Homo sapiens: one gene and its partners. The protein of the gene in region 1 purifies or fractionates together with the protein of each later gene. This does not show direct contact. Each region holds a gene or a part of one and is shown in the gene's direction. Other genes may lie near its edges.

Region 1 (3,519 bases):
CTTCCACTTCCACTCCAAGATTCTCTCCTCTCTCCCAATTTTTCCTTTCTCCATTATCCCTTGGCAGTCTCCCTGAATGGTTTGTGCTGTTACTGCAGTGTGGATAGTTCCCAGAGTCTGTGACTCTAGCTCTCCAAGCTGGGTGTCTTGTTTCCAGCCGTGTGCACAGTATCTCCAACAAGATGTCCTGTTAACTCCTCCTGAATTTTTACTAACCTGACATCATCTTTGTCCTTAGGAGCTTCTCCTCCTGACTTCCCACTTTCTCTTGATGGCACCAACAAACTTCCAGTCACCCTGGCTCGAAACCTCCAAGTTTATATTTGAACTCCTCTCCCTTGTTCCCCAAGTATTGCTTGATGTATTTTATAAGCCCATGCCCCTCTTCTTCATCCCAAACACCACTACCCAAGTGCAGATTTTATCACCTCTTGTATAAAAATAATAATAATGTGTGTGTGTTTACCATCTGTCAGCTACTCTGTTGCAAAGTGCTTTACGTTGATTTTCCCATTTAATCCTTACCATGACTGTACGAAGTACTTACTATTATTATACTGTAAAAAACAGCTTTCTGCCATCTTCCCAACTTCAACCTTTTCCTCTTTCAATTCATTTTCATCAGTTACAAGATTCACCTCCTAAAATGCCCTTGTAAACTTATCATTTTTCTGCACAAAAAACTTTGAAGGGCATTCCATTTTTTGCAGTTCCTTGTATTCAAGGCCCTGTATGAGCTGGTGCCCCACTCCATATCTAGCCTCACTTTTTACAGTTTCCTTGCCCTTTCTGCTTTTGTGCATTTGTTCACAGTTTACCTTCCCCTAAGACTTGTCCTTGTTCTTCAGTGTTCAATTCAAATGCCTCTGCCTGATGGGAAGGCTTTATGGAGAAGCTGTCCCTTCCTCCTGTGAATTTTAATAATGTGACATCTGTTTTTCATTAGCCCTTTACACTTTCTGAAATGCACTTTTTTTTTTTTTTTTGCGTGTGGCTTACCATCCCTCCTGGAGCAAGTGCTTTTTCTGTCTCCCACTCTATGTCACATGATGCCTGAAATACAGTAGGTGTTCAATGAAAAAATGGAGTGAATAAATGAATATACTCCCTCACCCATGAAGCAGGTGAAACAAGGTCAAGAAAGGGGATCTATACTATTTCCTAAAATAAGACAGTGGTGGAGTCAAAATTCAAACCAGGGACAGGAAAATGGTGTCATAGAGGAGGCAATGAATTGGTGATAAAAGGTTATGTTCTAATTCTTATCACTTCTGACAACCACAGGTAAGACTCACCTCTGTTCTCTGGGCCTTGGATTCCTTATCCATCAAAAGAGTTTGTGTTGGATGTGTTGACTTTTATGCTCCTCCCTGACCTGACAATTCTGTATTCTGTGAGTCTTGTTTCATAGCATACAGATTGTCTCCTGCTAAGAATACTTTTAGTGCTGACTGTATCTTTCATTTCAGGACCTTCCAGCTGTAACTTGAAGCCTCTAGTGTATCTGTTATCACATTGAGTCTCTAGAGATCAACTTGGCCAGTCAACTCAGCTGTCCAGCCAGTAAGGTGCCCTAAACTGGTTAGAGTGCCTCAAGGGCCCCAGGTTGGCACTCCTCAATGTGCAGCCACCAGTCAGCTCCCACTGCAGTATTCTAGGGCATTCGCAGAATGACTAGTAGTGCTCTAGGCTCCCAAATGTTCCAGACATCCTATCTCAACTCCTGCACTTCTGCCTTTCATAGAGCCCCCAGAAAAGATGTGTTTAGAGCCATGTAGATTCTGTTGAGAGTCTAGTAAAACCACTCTGCTCAGTGGCTTTCTAGATGCTCCACCTACCCCAAACATACCACTGTACTCTCTCCCCAGTGAGACAGGAAGAATCCTCTTGAGCCAATGCCTTTTAGCCCCTGAAAAGAAACTAATAGAGGAATCAACCTCAAGGGGAAATCATTATGGAAGAGCACATCTGTGAAGGTAGTAGCTAGATCTGCTGGGAGTCTGAGGAATCTGCTCCTAGCACCCCCTTGTAATAGGAGGACCCAGAGCATCCCTAGAGTTAATTATACAAAAGAACTACCCAGACTTGTCTCAGAGAGATGACTTTGACTGCTCGCCAGGTTTTATTTGTTCTTCAATCAGGCAATGATATGATTTAATTCCATATTTCAACATTTAAAAAATTAAAATAAATTAAATGGCATTAAAATACATCTGGCTTCTGGAGAATAGCCTGAGAAATATGTACATAAAGGAGGCTGATCACCAGCATCCCTTGATGGCTTTGCAACAGGGCAGAAGGATGTCAGCCTCCCCCATGGGTAACCTCAGAAGATAGAGCCCAGGTGGTTCTCTCTTGGCAACAGGGAAGGGCAGGAACGATGTCGGCCTCAGGCTGCCCTGGGATTCTTGCTCCTTTGACTCCAGCCCTGACTTCCTTTCAGTTGCAGGGGATGCTTCCTCTTGGTCCTTCCCGACATGACACACTCCTTCAGCCTGCTGAAAGGAGACCTCTGGCATTCACAGCACGAAGGTTTGGTTCTGGCTCCATTATTTATTGGCATAGCAACACTCAGCAATAAATGAGCCCCAATTTCTTCTTCTGTATGATCATCCTCATAAGAAGGATTAAATAAGATCCTGTGAGTGAGAAGTTCTTTGTAAACCCCTGGCACATAGCATTGTTTAATATTTATTGAATGAATGATGCAGTATAAATGCTGATTATCATTATGCCATACTCTGAAGGAAAAGTGAGGTGCTAATGAGAGGACTAAGACTGGGAGAAGGGGCCGTGTTTAGAATTAGACTCACGACTTCTGTCCAAACACTATGTGGTCCCATTGGTTCTTGAGAATGAACAAAACTCTCTGAACTCTGAGGTCATTGGCTTTAACCATATACCTCTCTACCCTAAGGCTTGCCAGGAAGTTTGAAGTCTCTTCCTAGATGCATCTTTCCAGAATCACTTAATGAAAACTCCTGTAGAGTCATTTTGCATCCACTCAGCAAATACTTACTGAGTACTCCCTCTGCCAGCACTAGCCAAGGCACTGGGAATACTGTGGTGAACAAAAGGGACCAGATTCCTGCTACTATGGAGTATATATTCTATGATAAACTAGTAAAAAAGCAAACAAAAACAATGATGATTTCATCAAGTGAATATGGGCTGTAAAGAAAACGAAAAGTGATGTTACAAGAGAGTACTGGAGGGGGAGATTGCCTTTAGATAAGATGGGCGGGGGAAAGCCTCTCAGAGAGGGGGCATCTAAGGCCTGAATGAAATCTAAAAGTGACCTATGTGGATATTTAGGGTAAGGTTGTTTCAAGTAGAGAGAACAGTAGATGCAAAAGTCCTAAGACACATGCTTGCCTGTTCTAGAAACTTCAAAGTATTTCATCTGAGTTGGAGTGGAGTATGGGTGGAGCAAAACAAAATGGTAGGAGATTTGAAAGGTCAGCAAGTTAGAAGCTAGATGAGAAGTCAGTAGGGGGTGGGGTGCCACAGAAAGAGAGA
Region 2 (3,519 bases), on another chromosome or scaffold:
GGAAGCAGTTGGAGGCCAAGCAGAAGACCACTTGAAACTCAAAGATGGGCAGCAACAAAATGAGACTAAAAAGAAGAAAGGATGGCTGGATCAGGAAGACCAGGAAGCACCACTGCAGGTTTGCTGACTTGACACTTTATCAGGGGATGAGAACCAGATTATAAAGTTCAGATGGAACCCAGAGCAAAAATCTCTGTCTCTGAGAAAGAAGACATGAGCAGATTCTCTGGCTGCATTTTATTTTTTATTTTATTTATTTATTTATTAATTTTGAGATGGAGTTTCACTCTTCTCAGCCAGGCTGGAGTGCAATGGCACAATCTTGGCTCACTGCAACCTCTGCCTCCCAGGTTCAAGCCATTCTCCTGCCTCAGCCTCCCAAGTAGCTGGGATTACAGGCATCTGACACCACGCTCAGCTCAGTTTTGTATTTTTGGTAGAGATGGGGTTTTACCATGTTGGCCAGGCTGGTCTTGAACTCCTGACCTCAGGTGATCCGCCCGCCTCAGCTTCCCAAAGTGCTAGGATTACAGGTGTAAGCCACTGCGCCCAACCTCTGGCTGCATTTTTATGTTACAGTCTCTATTACCCAGTACCACTGCAGGTCATTGTCAGCCACCCTCAGAAAACCATAGAATGTTTTCCTAGTGAAATAAGCAGAAAACAGCAAATTGTAGATTAGTAGTCCTTAATTTGAAATCCAAATTGCTTTAACAGATTCCACATCCTACATTGGTTTCCCCCATCTTGCATTCTGTGGTACCATATACAACTCCATCAACTGGACCTTACACCCCTGTAACAGATAAGATAAACCATACATACTTCTACAAGTTTAAAATCATTAACTGAAGAATGTCTCATCTATCTAAAGTCAAGTCACTGGGTAAATAAATGCCCAAACTGAGCTCAGACTATACTCAGTTTGAATTATTACCATAGCCCAATTTATATTTCCAGTTTTTAGTGTATTATTCACCAGCATTGGTCATATGTTTTATATATGATTGTTTATGCTTGCATTTCTCAGGAGGGTGCCTTCAAGAATCCTCTCAGTGCTTTTGAGAAATGTCAGGCTGTTGGCTCCTGTTACTGTGTTAATGGATAGCTCCACAGTCACATACTTTGAATTAGGATGGTGTGATGTTCATAACAATGACCCTGTGGTCCTGAATCCTCAGGATAACATTTAGCCTAGCTTTGTGCATTCTAACTAGTGCTTTGAAAATTGACAATCCGCAAATATCATGATATAGGAACCCTCATTCAAAAGGTTACACTCTTTTGTTATACTAGATAACATTTACCATTGAAATTTTTAAACTAGAGTTCTCTGATGTCACTCAGGTATCTTGAGATTGAATGATATTTTTATGCAAATTTCCTAGAAAGGGGACGCCAAAATAAAAGCTCAAGAGGAAGCTGACAAACGCAAGAAAGAACACGAGAGAATTATGTTACAAAATTTACAAGAACGGTTAGAAAGGAAAAAGGTACTCGCTCTCTGTTTGGGGGGACTTGATTCTGTGTTTAAAACAATGTTGGGCACCTGATATCAGCATGTTTTTAAAAATCACAAATCTGATATATGCTAGTTCCTGGTGGTTTTCCCACTCGATTCTCTTCCTTATCCAAGGATCTGACTTCTCCTACATAGAGGGCTGTCCTCTTACTGATCATGCCTCCCTCTCATGGACCCTTGGTGGCCATTGGCCATTACAGTGATGCCTCACTATATCAAACCTCTGGTAACAAAACTTCTCTGAGCAGAAGGACTCCAGTCATGGTAGGGGTTGGTAGAAGTTAAGACTTTCTTCTAAACTGGCTGGAAATTGCAGCAACTACATGGGGAGAAGCACAAACTGTAGGCCTCTTTGAGAGGCCAAGGTGCAGGCTATTTTTAAGGTAGGGCCACATGTGAGCTCATCTGCAGCCCTGGTCCAGGCTGAGTTGCTGCAAGGCCTATCTGGTAGTAGATTGGTCACCTTGAGGGGGCCAGGGAGCTGCAACTCTCCTCACTGCAGGGAAAGAAGTGTGCACAGGAGAGAGAATTCCTGTCCTTCCCTAGAAATATATTTCTCCTCCACCTCCTATCTTCTCTCTTCATTAACACAAAACAGTGTGGCATCATTGAGGTGTATTATTTTCATTAACATTGGCTTCAGGAATCAGCTGAAGACTAAAGACTAAAATTATGTTAAAAGCTCTAATTGGTTCGCAATAATATATGCTTAGTCTAATGAATTTCTGCATATGCAAAATTAGGAGTGAGATGTTGTCATTTGAATGTTTGTGTTATAACAAATACAGCGGTCATCATTCAGGGCATTTTATAGCTGAAACTGGGATTGGGATAGGGGACTCAACTGCCACCGTAAGCCTTTTGTTGGTAATATTTGTGGTTTTGGAGCAATCACTGCCATTGTGCACCTCTGTGAAATGGGGATAATCAACTCCTTTAGGACAACTGTTTGGTTTCTAATCTGTTTTCATGTTTGAATTTTTATTTTCCTTTAAATAGAGAATAGAAGAAATTATGAAGCGGACAAGAAAGACAGATGTGAATGCCTCAAAGGTAGTCTCCATACTCCTACCAGCAGTGTATAAGAATGCCTCTTGTTTCACATTATTGCCGAGTTTTTCACTTTACCCAATCTGGTGGTAATGAAATAAAGTATTACATTTGCATTTCCCTGATTATCAACAAGGTTGACCATGTTTTCATATCTTTAGTTAGCTCTCATATTTCTTTTGTGTGAAATGTTTTTTTTTATCTTTTGCCCAAGACTTTTGGGTTGATTTGTCTCATTGTGGTTCTTTAAATGTTATAGATACTGCTTCTTTTTTGGTTATGTGTTGCAGATACCTTCTCCCAGTTTACAGCTTATCTTTTCTTTTTCTTTTTTTCTTTTTTTTTTTTGTATACAATGTGTAATGATCAAATCAGGATAATTAGCAAATCCATCACCTCAAACGCTGATCATTTCTCTCTTTTTTTTTTTGAGACAGAGTCCCGCTCTGTCACCCAGGCCAGAGTGTAGTGGTGTGATCTCGGCTCACTGCAACCTCCACCTCCTGGGTTCAAGTGATTCTCCTGCCTCAGCCTCCTGAGTAACTGGGATTACAGGCATGCACCACCATGCCTAGCTATTTTTGTATTACTATTAGAGACAGGGTTTCAACATGTTGGCCAGACTGGTCTCGAAATCCTGACCTTAGGTTATCCACCTGCCTTAGCCTCCCAAAGTGCTAGGATTACAGGTGTGAGCCACCATGCCCAGCCAGTTTATCTTTTCTTAATGTTGTCTTCTTCTGGATAGAAGCTTTTTTTTTTTTTTTTTTTTTTTTTGAGATAAGAGTCTTGCTCTGTCACCCAGGCAGGAACACAGTGGCGCAATCATGGCTCACTGCAGCCTCCACCTCCCAAGCTCAAGCAATCCACCCATCTCACCCTTCCAAGTAGCTGAGACTACAGGTGCATGCCACCACACCTGGCTAATTTTTTATTTTTTATTTATT
Region 3 (3,519 bases), on another chromosome or scaffold:
TACTTTAGTCTGTAGCTGTACTTTTTTAAAGAGCCACAATGATGTCATTGTTTTCAATGGATGTAATGTCTGCCAAATTATGTATCTCATTGGATGCTACATAGAAATTGGATAGTTTAAGTCTTTTTTGGAGCACTGAAGAAACAAATCTCCAACAAATGAAAGCAGATGAGGTTCCTAATAGTCCTTAAAAAATGGATAGTGAAATAAATTATTCTAGTAATATGTATTACTGGAAAGTGGATTTGAACACATGGTCTGGTGGCTATCAGCATAGACTGGGGTCAGAGAGACCTGGATTTGAGTTCTAGAGCTGCCGGCAACTAGCTCAGAGACTTTGGGAGTAATACTGTCTAGGTTTTAATTGTTTTTAACTGTAAAGTTGGAGTAACAATAGTGTCTGCCACAGTGGAAGGATGAAATGGGACAGTATATGTAAAGCCCCTAGCCCAGTGCCTGGCGCATAGAAGTTGCTCAATAAATGGCCTCTGTTGTTGTCACAACTTGAACCCTTCGACCACCTCTGTTAGACCATTGCTGTAGATGTTGCACCTGCGATAAGATTTCTGAATAAACTTTTTCTTTAACAGCTTTAAGATTAGTTCCCATCATTTGATGTATTTTAAATTTTTATTTTTATATTTTCTGAAGCATACTGTTTATCATACTGAATATGTACTTATTTTATGTATGAAGTTATTATATAGTTACATATTTTACCATGAATCTGTTAAACTTTGACAGATTTCTCTATAAGCAGTAACTAATTAGATCTAGCTACATTTTTCACAGCTATTTCTTCTGGAGAGCAATGCATACATTTTTAAAGAAGTTGGCCATGTTTAGATTGTGAAACAGATGAAAACCACAGGGTTTCGGTAGGAGCTCCCACCCATGCCTTTAGAGACACATGTATTATCCACCTAGTTCTACAAAAAAGTCATTATTAACACCACTTAAATGCATGGGAAGCTAAGCATCATGAAAGCAGGGTGGAGGCCTGGTCCCTCTCCTGTTCCCCGGAGCCCATGCTGGAAATATCTAAAGTAGAAAGACATAGAAATAGTAGACCCTGACTGCCACTTTGATAAGTGCAGAAAGGAAGTACTCCAAGGAACTATGGAAACGTGAAGGAGGCTTGGCAGTTTAACTGATAAGACAGGAAAGACTTTCCAGGGTAAATAAGGCTTATGTGGAGGCTTGAAGGATTTTGATGTCTTGGACGAGAGTCCAGGCAAAGGGAGATAGGAAATACCAGGAGACTTAAGAGAGCACAGCATGTGCTCCAGAAAGGCAAGAAGGTATACTAAAAGCAAGGTCAGAAAGGACTTGCCCTCCTTTGCATATGAAAGATTCCTTTGTAATTTTGCCTCTCTTTTCCACATTTTCAGTTACTTTGGTTAAACAAGAATGCAGAATATATTAAAATGTCAATATTAAGAGAAAAGACATCTACAGAATAAATTTTTAAAAATCATACCATGTGGGGGACAGGCACGGTGGCTCACGCCTGTAGTCCCAGCACTTTGGAAGACTGAGGTGGGCGGATCACTTGAGGTCAGAAGTTCAAGACCAGCCTGGCCAACAGGGTGAAACACTGTCTGTACTAAAAATGCAAAAAATGAGCTAGGTGTTGTGGCATGTGCCTGTAATCCCAGCTACTCAGGAGACTGAGGCAGGAGAATCGCTGGATCCCGGGAGGCGGAGGTCGCAGTGAGCCGAGACCGCACCACTGCACTCCAGCCTGGTGACAGAACGAGACTCCATCTCAAAACAAACAAACAAACAAAAAACCACACACACACACACACAAAACCATGTGGAAAAACTCCCTTTAGACTTTCTTTCTTTTTTTTTTTTTTAAATAAAACAATCCTAGGCTCTCAAAGCCAAAACAAAGAATAGAGATACTCTAGTTAAACTCACCTTAATAAACATGAAGAAACAGAAGCTGAAGAGTTTAAATAACTTGCTAAGTCGTCTCCTTGCTAGTTTGCTGGAGGGACTAAGTAGCAATCACTTAAAAATAGAATTTTGAATAAAAATATTTGAAGGATAACCTTATTTGACATTTAGTTTATACATACCATGTTTTTTAAAAGCTGGCATTTTTTTCTGTACACAAGTCAAAAAGTTATTTATTTTAGTCACTTAATTTTAAAAAATCGGCAGTTTAACATCTCTTTTTATTAGGAGTTATTTTTGTGGTGGTAACATTTTTAGATTTCCTATACCTCTTATTTCCTGCATTTAAATGCAGTTCATTTACCTGTCTTCTTTGCCTCAATGAGATTTCAGCCTTCTAGAACTTCTCATAGATTGAGGTTTTCCAATATGCTTTAAATGTTCTCTTATATCCAAACTTAAGAACTTGGGTATCAGGAACTGAGCGGGTTGACTTTATTGCTGATTTAAGCTTGAGAGAATTTTTTAAACTACGGAGTTAATAGGATTTAACTAGAAACTTGGGTTAGAGCTCTCATCAATCTTCTAAATTCCTTTGAAAATAAGCCACCATAAATTCACCTTAAGTTAATGAAAAATTGCTAATCCCTTTAGGTTCTTAAAAAACTTATTAAAAAATAACTCACCCTGCTTGAGATGTTTTATTAATGGCCTTATCTGGGAGAAAATAATAGTAGTCAAATTATTAACTCCTGCTAACTTATTAACTTTTATTAATGAGTTTAATACTCTCCTGCTTTATTGCAAAGTTAGGGACAAATATTGAAAGTCAATGCCAGAATTATTGGGCCAACTCTTATCCAAGTCTTACATCATTTCTGTTTTTCAGAAATTGGAATTTTTTAAATCTGTTTGTTATTTCAAGAAAAGAGTAAAGGAAGCTGGATGAGTTTACCTGTGCTCTTTTTAAGTGACCCATTGTCTGTATGACGTAATGGATCTTCATACATGGATCCTGCTTGACTTTCAGGGACTTGCTTTTGAAGCTCTAAAAGTTTTCTTTCACAGCAGTCCTAAGTTAAAAGAAAGCATAACAACAAATGAAAGGGCTTGTCATGCACGCAGTAATGGTGTCAGCCGAACCTTAAATATCTAGAAAATGGACCAACATATTCTAAACACTGTAGTTACTATATTCACATCAAAACAGCTTCTTTTTTTACTCCTATATAATTGCCACATAGTTTAAACCACGACTTCTGTTGAATTTCAACTGTGTTTACTCTAGCGAAAGTGACAGCTAAACATCTTATTGCTTTAAAACAAATGGAATACGTGTATTTTTTCCCCCCAGATTTGTCTATATTGGCACGTAGCCCTAGGATTATTGGCTGCTGCCAACAGGCAAAACAGTAATGCATGATTTAAAATTTTTCAGGTTATTTATAGAAAAGATGGTACCGAAAATGACATGTTTTCTGTAGAATTAATCTTTTGCTTTATTAGTAGGAAATCATTTAAATTTTATTTTTAAACTAAAGATTACTGGGACTAGTTTATTTATATTTTGGACTTAGGAGAAACTGTTGACATTCATTACGGTCTTTAGTCTGT
Region 4 (3,519 bases), on another chromosome or scaffold:
AAAAGCAGTTAAACCTCCTGCTGTCTCCATAGTGGTAACTCCTTCCAAACTGTTTGGGGACTTTTACAGCTTTCTTATGTCAAACTGCCCTAAGAGACTGAGATGAAGAGAGAGAGGTTGAGTCACTGTAATTCCTTCTTGTTAATATAAAAGAGGGAGGGGTAACAGTTACATAAGGTTCTCTTTTTTGCTTTGCAGAATGCATCTTGTCTTGTTCTTGCAGCCCGGCATGCCAGTGCTTCCTCCACGGTAAGGTTTGGAAAAGAAGACTAAGAATAAGAATCATTGCGGCCAGCCTGACCTTGGGGCAGAGGATTTGGCAACCACCTGGCCTCTTATTATCCTGAGTATTTCCTGGAAGTGTTTGTTACTATTGTTATTGTTATAGCTGCTATTATTATTATATTACTATTTAACAAATAATTTACTCAGTGGTATAGTGAGATGGGAATATCAATACATTTGCCTAATTCTTTTAAATGTTTTAAGTAGTGTAAAATATACATAACATAAAATTTACCATTTTAATCATTTTTAAGTATATGGTTTAGTGGCAGTAGATATGTTTACATTATTGTGCAACCATCCATCTCCAGAACTTTTGTCTGCCCAAACCGAGAAACTGTTCCCATTAAACATTAACTCCTCATTCCTTCTTCCCCCTGCCTAATTCTTTTACCCTCATTTGTGCAGAGTAGTTGACCAGACTTCCCTGGCAGATAAAGCCAGCTTCTAAAAAGCAAATTCTTGACACACCTACTTTGCAGGAAATCTAATAAACTTTTAGACCATTGCTTAGTCCTTCTACTTTTCTTTTTAGAATTTGAAAGACATATTGGCTGACCTGATACCTAAGGAGCAGGCCAGAATTAAGACTTTCAGGCAGCAACATGGCAAGACGGTGGTGGGCCAAATCACTGTGGACATGGTAAGGGTTGTGTGGCTTTGGCTGGGAAAAGTAGCTCTGTAATGTGCTTCAACAAAAGTAACATTCTCTCCACTGACTATTCAAAAGCATTCTGTCCCATAGGCCCTGTAGGACAGCTTTAGGATGACTTTTCCCCATCCTTCAGATTCTGAGCAGCTCAGCTGATAGTTTCTCAACAGTTTTTAGCTTATTGGTCTCCATCCCCTTCTCCTAGACTAGAACTCATTCTGTTTGTTTTGATTGGTTGGAATTTGAGGGTAGGGTATGTTGGGGAGTGGTTGAGTGGGCAGGAGAAAAAAAGTGAAATACAATAAGAAAAGGAATCAAACAGAGGGCGCAATGGCTCATGCCTATTATCCCAACATTTTGGGAGGCTGCAGTTGGAGAATCACTTGAGGCCAGGAGTTAACAACCAGCTTGATCAACAAAGGAAGATACAATCTCTATGAAAGAAAAATTTAAAAAATTAGCCAGAGATGGTGGGATGCCCCTGTAGTCCCAGCTACTGGGGAGGCAAAGGCAGGAGGATTGCTTGAGCCCAGGAGTTCAGGGCTGCAGTGAGCCATGATTATGCCACTGTAGTATAGCCTGGGCAACAGAGGGAGACCCTATCTCCAAAACAAACAAAAAGAAAGATAGTGATTTCTCAACTTAAAAAATTTCATTTCCAGGCCTGTTGCAGTGGCTCATGCCTGTAATCCCAGCACTTTGGGAGGCTGAGGCGGGTGGCTCATCTGAGGTCAGGAGTTCGAGACCAGCCTGGCCAACATGGTAAAACTCCGTCTCTACTAAAAAATATAAAAATTAGCTGGGCATGGTGGCAGGCAACTGTAATCCCAGCTACTCAGGAGCCTGAGGCAGGAGAATCACTTAAACCCAGGAGGCAGAGGTTGCAGTGAGCTGAGATTGCACCATTGCACTCCAGCCTGGGCAAGAGTGAGACTCCATCTGGGGGGAAAAAAAAAAAGATCAGCCTTGGCAACATGGCTGGCAAAACCCTGTTTTTTTTTTTTTTTTTGGGACGGAGTCTCACTGAGTCACCAGGCTGGAGTACAGTGACGTGATCTCGGCTCACTACAACCTCCGCCTCCCGGGTTCAAGCGATTCTTCTGCCTCAGCCTCCTGAGTAGCTGGGATTACAGGCCCGCACCACCACGCCCAGCTGATTTTTGTATTTTTAGTAGAGACAGGGTTTCACCATGTTGGCCAGGATGTCTCGATATCCTGACGTCGTGATCTGCCCGCCTTGGCCTCCCAAAGTGCTGGGATTACAGGCGTGAGCCACTGCACCCGGCCTAAACCCCATTTCTTTAAAAAAAAAAAAAAGAAATACAAAAATTAGCCAGACATGGTGGCACGTGCCTATAATCCCAGCTACTCAGGAGGCTGAAGTGGGTGGATCACCTGAGCCTGCAAGTCAAGGCTGCAGTAAGCCGTGATTGTGCCACTGTGCTGCAGCCTGAGTGACAGACTCTGTGAGAGGCTTAGTGATCTTCCCTCCTCCTCAGCCTCCCAAAGTGCTGGGATTACAGGCATGAGCCCCACCGTACCTGGCCACAAAGTTTGTTTTTTTTTTTCTTTTTTTTTTTTTTTTTTGAGATGGAGTTTTGCTCTTGTCACCCAGGCTGAAGTGCAATGGTGTGATCTTGGCTCACTGCAATCTCTGCCTTCTGGGTTCAAGCGATTCTCCTGCCTCAGCCTCCCAAGTAGCTGGGATTACAGGCACATACACCATGCCCGCTAATTTTTTAATTTTTAGTAGAGACATGGTTTCACCCTGTTGGCCAGGCTGGTCTCAAACTCCTGACCTCAGGTGATCCACCTGCCTCGGCTTCCCAAAGTGCTGGGATTACAGGTGTCAGCCACTGTGCCTGGCCACAAAGTTTAATTCTTTAGTAAGCTGACTCCTCAGACATCTCTCACCAAATGAAGTCTTACAAGTCTGAGAATAAATTTTCTCTCCCAGATCCCATGAAGCTCTAACAAGTTCTAGTCTGAATCATTCTGATTACTGGCCACAGCCTCTTTTTTTTTTCCTTCTTTCTTCATCCTCTTTAGATGTATGGTGGCATGAGAGGCATGAAGGGATTGGTCTATGAAACATCAGTTCTTGATCCTGATGAGGTAAGACATCTTCATGTCAATTACTAATAATCATTGAGTTTGTGCAAATACGCAAACCGTGGATTAGACCAGTAAGGGTAAGCACAAAACAGAGCACCTAGCTTCATATATTGGAAGGTAGAGAAGACATATGTATGGAATAATTGAAGAACAAATTTACCTTTTAAATATATCAACTAGTAAAAATAAAAGTACAAAACCAGAGGTAAGTTATGTGAAGATTTAAGCTTAATTTAAAGTTCTGTTCTGGACTGGGCGCAGTGGCTCACACCTGTAATCCCAGCACTTTGGGAGGCTGAGGCGGGCAGATCATGCGGTCAGGAGGTTGAGACCGTCCTGGCTAACACGGCGAAACCCTGTCTGTACTAAAAACACACAAAATTAGCCGGGCATGGTGGCAGGCACCTGTAGTCCCAGCTACTCGGGAGGCTGAGGCAGGAGAATGGCGTGAACCCAGGAGGCGGAGT
Region 5 (3,519 bases), on another chromosome or scaffold:
AAAGCCTAAAATAATTACTGTTTGGCCATTTACAGAAAGAATGCCAACCCCTACTCTATGAGTTCATAAAACCATGATGCCTGTGGAAGGTGTGATTTGTTATATGAGTTTATCGTATATTTGTTATATGAGCTGCTTAGTTGAGAGGTCACATCTCTGAGCAGCTCTTGGGTAGAAAAGCTAAATCTGCTATCTCTAAGAAACTTGATATGTACCTCCCCTAGTCATCATGTGACAACTATTTTTTCTGTCTCTCTGTCCCATGAAGATTAAAGTAAATACTAAGAGTCTGGTTCAGGATAGTTTTTTTTGTTTTTTGTTTTGTTTTGTTTTGTTTTTTCCTTTTGATTTTTTATAAAGACAAGGTCTCACTGTGTTGTCCAGGCCAGTCTCAAACTCCTGGGCTCAAGTCATCCTCCCACCTCAGCCTTCCAAAGTGCTGGGATTACAGCTGTGAGCCACCGCACCCAGCTCAGGGTAGTTCTTTATGGTATAATAGGTTCATGCTAGACCTACCAAAAATTTGAGTACTTTTTAAGTTATATTTTTTTGCAGCATGATATTAACATGTAAGTATATTTCAGAAAGTTTGTGAAAGGGAAAAAATTAACCATAACTCTAGCTATTCTAACTCAGCTTTTTTTTTCCCTTACCCATTGTTTGTTTGTTTTTTCTTTATTTGTTTTTTGTTTGTGTGTGTGGTTTTTTTGTTTTTTGTGTTTTTGTTTTTGAGACAGAGTTTTGCTCTTGTTGCCCAGGCTGGAGTGCAATGGCACAATCTTGGCTCACTGCAACCTCTGCTTCCTGGGTTCAAGTGATTCTTCTGCTTCAGCCTCCCAAGTAGCTGGGATTACAGGCATGTGCTACCACGCCCAGCTAATTTTGTATTTTTAGTAGAGACGGGGTTTCTCCATGTTGGTCAGGCTGGTCTCGAACTCCCGACCTTAGCACTTCGGCCTCCCAAAGTACTGGGATTACAGGCGTGAACCACTGCGCCCAGCCACCCATTGTTATCTGTAGTTGTGACATACTGTTATATATGTATGTGCAGGACTGGTTTTGGTTTTGTCACTTAGAATTATACTAAGCTTTTTTACTTAATATTTTCAATGTTTTTAAAAATATTTTCATATTCTCTGGTTATGAAGATTTTTTTTAATGCATGCATTTCAATACACAATTTGAGAGTCTGTAGTAGACAAAGATGCCAGACTGTGTTAATGACTACCCTCAGGGTGGTTATAATCTGATGAGAAAGATACACACATGACTTTCTTGTTCTTGTTGTTGTTGTTGTTGTTGTTGTTCTTGTTGTTGTTTTGAGAGAATCTTGCTCTGTGGCCCAGGCCGGAGTGCAGTGGCACAATCTCAGCTCACTGCAACCTCCGCCTCCTGGGTTCAAGCGATTCTCCTGCCTCAGGCTCCCCTGAGCTGGGATCACAGGCACCCACCACCATGACTGGCTAATTTCTGTATTTTTAGTAGAGACTGGGTTTCACCACATTGGCCAGGCTGGTCTCAAACTCCTGACCTCAATGGATCCATCCACCTCAGCCTCCCAAAGTGCTAGGATTATAGACGTGAGCCACCGCGCCTGGCCACACATGATATTTAATATAAGACAGAATGGAATAAATGATGACTAAAGGGAGAGCTGTTGATTCTAGTGGGGAGTTAGAGAAGATGTAATGAGGACTGCGGCATGTGAGCTGTGCATTAAAGAGGGGAAAGGGCTTTTTTTTTTGCAAAGGAAATGAAACGGACAAGGAAACTGGGGAGAGATCTGAGTGAGGGCATAGGCGTGGGACGTGCATTATGCAGAACTTGTGTAGAAAGCCCCAAGTTGTTTTCGTGATGAAAACACGAATGTGAGGAGGACTGTGGGAGACAGCCAAGCTGAGAAGGTGGAGCAGATCGTGAAGCACCCTGGTTGATACTGTAAGAAGTCAACACTTGATTCTCCAGGCAACAAGGAGGATGGAGGGGTTTGGCTAAGATGGCTCCACATCTAGCCCTGTTCATGCACTCAATATCTTTGGGATCCAGGCCTCAAAGTGAATGAAGCTGGACGATGGAAACTGTAGGAAATTTAAAATCAGATGCCATAACTGGAGGGGCCAGGGGCTCCTCAGCTCCAGCCAGTAATTATTTTGCTAATACAGTGCTATCGTTTCTCATTTTTCAAGAGAAACTACAGGTTTCAGCTTTTAGGCACAAGTGCCCAATTTAAAAACGTTTCACTGGGTGAAGTAAAACATTACTAGGTCCCATATTTGGTCTTTAATTGGCAGTTTGTGATCTCTCTTCTAACCGTGCATAACATCATTATACAGAGATGGTTTAGGAAAGTGAACACCTAAGAACAGGGAGATAAACTGTAAATGGGAATGTCATTGGTGAGAGCCAAGAATGTCCCAGAGCCATGGGAATGGAGTGGAAAGGGTAGATTCTGAGGAAGGGGAAGGTTGTATTCAGAATCAGGTGATCCCCGTGCACAGTCAGAGGACTACCTTCTCCAGTCCCTCAGACAGAATTTACTCTCCTTGGGGCTTTTAGCATAGCAGTGTCCTATGTGTTTTACATTTTGTGGCCGTATTCCATACTTGGTTTACAGGTTTGGTTACAAGCACCCCTTGCAAGCTTTTGAAGGCAAGGACTATGTCTCAGTCCTCACCACCTAAAATAGCTTGGCTCATTGTAGATTCATAGTACATTGTCTCAATTGTGAAGATGGGAATGTATATTTCATCCATGTCAAAAATAAGGTCATTTTTTTTTTTTGTTTAACCCACAGCTTTTACCTTAATCTTAGTAGGTTTTAGAGTGATTCATTCACTTTTCTTTTTTTTTTTTTTTTTTTTTGAGACAGAGTCTTGCTCTCTCACCCAGGCTGGAGTGCAGTGGCGCCATCTCCGCTCACTGCAAGCTCTGCCTTCTGGGTTCACACCATTCTTCTGCCTCAGCCTCCCCAGCAGCTGAGACTACAGGCACCCGCTGCCACGCCCGGCTAATTTTTTTGTATTTTTATTAGAGACGGGGTTTCACCGTGTTAGCCAGGATGGTCTCGATCTCCTGACCTCGTGATCCGCCCGGCTAATTTTTTTGTATTTTTAGTAGAGACGGGGTTTCACCGTGTTAGCCAGGATGGTCTCGATCTCCTGACCTCGTGATCCGCCCGCCTGGGCCTCCCAAAGTGCTGGGATTACAGGCGTGAGCCACCGTGCCCCGCCCACTTTTCTTAATACAGATGCAATTATGATGGGGTTACATCCCAATAAGCCTGTCATAAGTCAGAAATGCATTTAAGGCCAGGCTTATGTCTGTAATCCTAGCATTTTGGGAGGCCAAGGTGGGAGAATCACTTGAGCCCAGGAGTTCCAGACCAGCCTGGGCAAAATGGGGAGACCCTGTCTCTACAAAAAAAAAAAAAAAAGAAAAGAAAATTAGCAAGGCATGGTGGAATGCACTTGTGGTCCCAGCTACTTGGGAGGCTGAGGCAGGAGGATCACTTGAGCCTGG

What was found.
Region 2: the proteins of SLC8A3 (region 1) and MAP7D3 purify together in Homo sapiens (affinity purification with mass spectrometry; one large-scale study listed by BioGRID and IntAct). This does not show direct contact.
Region 3: the proteins of SLC8A3 (region 1) and CA2 purify together in Homo sapiens (affinity purification with mass spectrometry; one large-scale study listed by BioGRID and IntAct). This does not show direct contact.
Region 4: the proteins of SLC8A3 (region 1) and CS purify together in Homo sapiens (affinity purification with mass spectrometry; one large-scale study listed by BioGRID and IntAct). This does not show direct contact.
Region 5: the proteins of SLC8A3 (region 1) and GOT2 purify together in Homo sapiens (affinity purification with mass spectrometry; one large-scale study listed by BioGRID and IntAct). This does not show direct contact.

What each region holds. Positions count from the first base shown.
Region 1 is NC_000014.9:70,178,933-70,182,451, reverse strand, and holds part of SLC8A3 (sodium/calcium exchanger 3 isoform D precursor), read left to right. Parts: intron 1-3,519. UniProt on the Homo sapiens protein: Mediates the electrogenic exchange of Ca(2+) against Na(+) ions across the cell membrane, and thereby contributes to the regulation of cytoplasmic Ca(2+) levels and Ca(2+)-dependent cellular processes.
Region 2 is NC_000023.11:136,223,883-136,227,401, reverse strand, and holds part of MAP7D3 (MAP7 domain-containing protein 3), read left to right. Parts: coding exon 1-118; intron 119-1,388; coding exon 1,389-1,493; intron 1,494-2,521; coding exon 2,522-2,575; intron 2,576-3,519. UniProt on the Homo sapiens protein: Promotes the assembly and stability of microtubules.
Region 3 is NC_000008.11:85,466,989-85,470,507, forward strand, and holds part of CA2 (carbonic anhydrase 2), read left to right. Parts: intron 1-3,519. UniProt on the Homo sapiens protein: Catalyzes the reversible hydration of carbon dioxide. Can also hydrate cyanamide to urea. Stimulates the chloride-bicarbonate exchange activity of SLC26A6. Essential for bone resorption and osteoclast differentiation.
Region 4 is NC_000012.12:56,283,325-56,286,843, reverse strand, and holds part of CS (citrate synthase, mitochondrial precursor), read left to right. Parts: intron 1-198; coding exon 199-249; intron 250-820; coding exon 821-928; intron 929-2,986; coding exon 2,987-3,052; intron 3,053-3,519. UniProt on the Homo sapiens protein: Key enzyme of the Krebs tricarboxylic acid cycle which catalyzes the synthesis of citrate from acetyl coenzyme A and oxaloacetate.
Region 5 is NC_000016.10:58,710,311-58,713,829, reverse strand, and holds part of GOT2 (aspartate aminotransferase, mitochondrial isoform 1 precursor), read left to right. Parts: intron 1-3,519. UniProt on the Homo sapiens protein: Catalyzes the irreversible transamination of the L-tryptophan metabolite L-kynurenine to form kynurenic acid (KA). As a member of the malate-aspartate shuttle, it has a key role in the intracellular NAD(H) redox balance.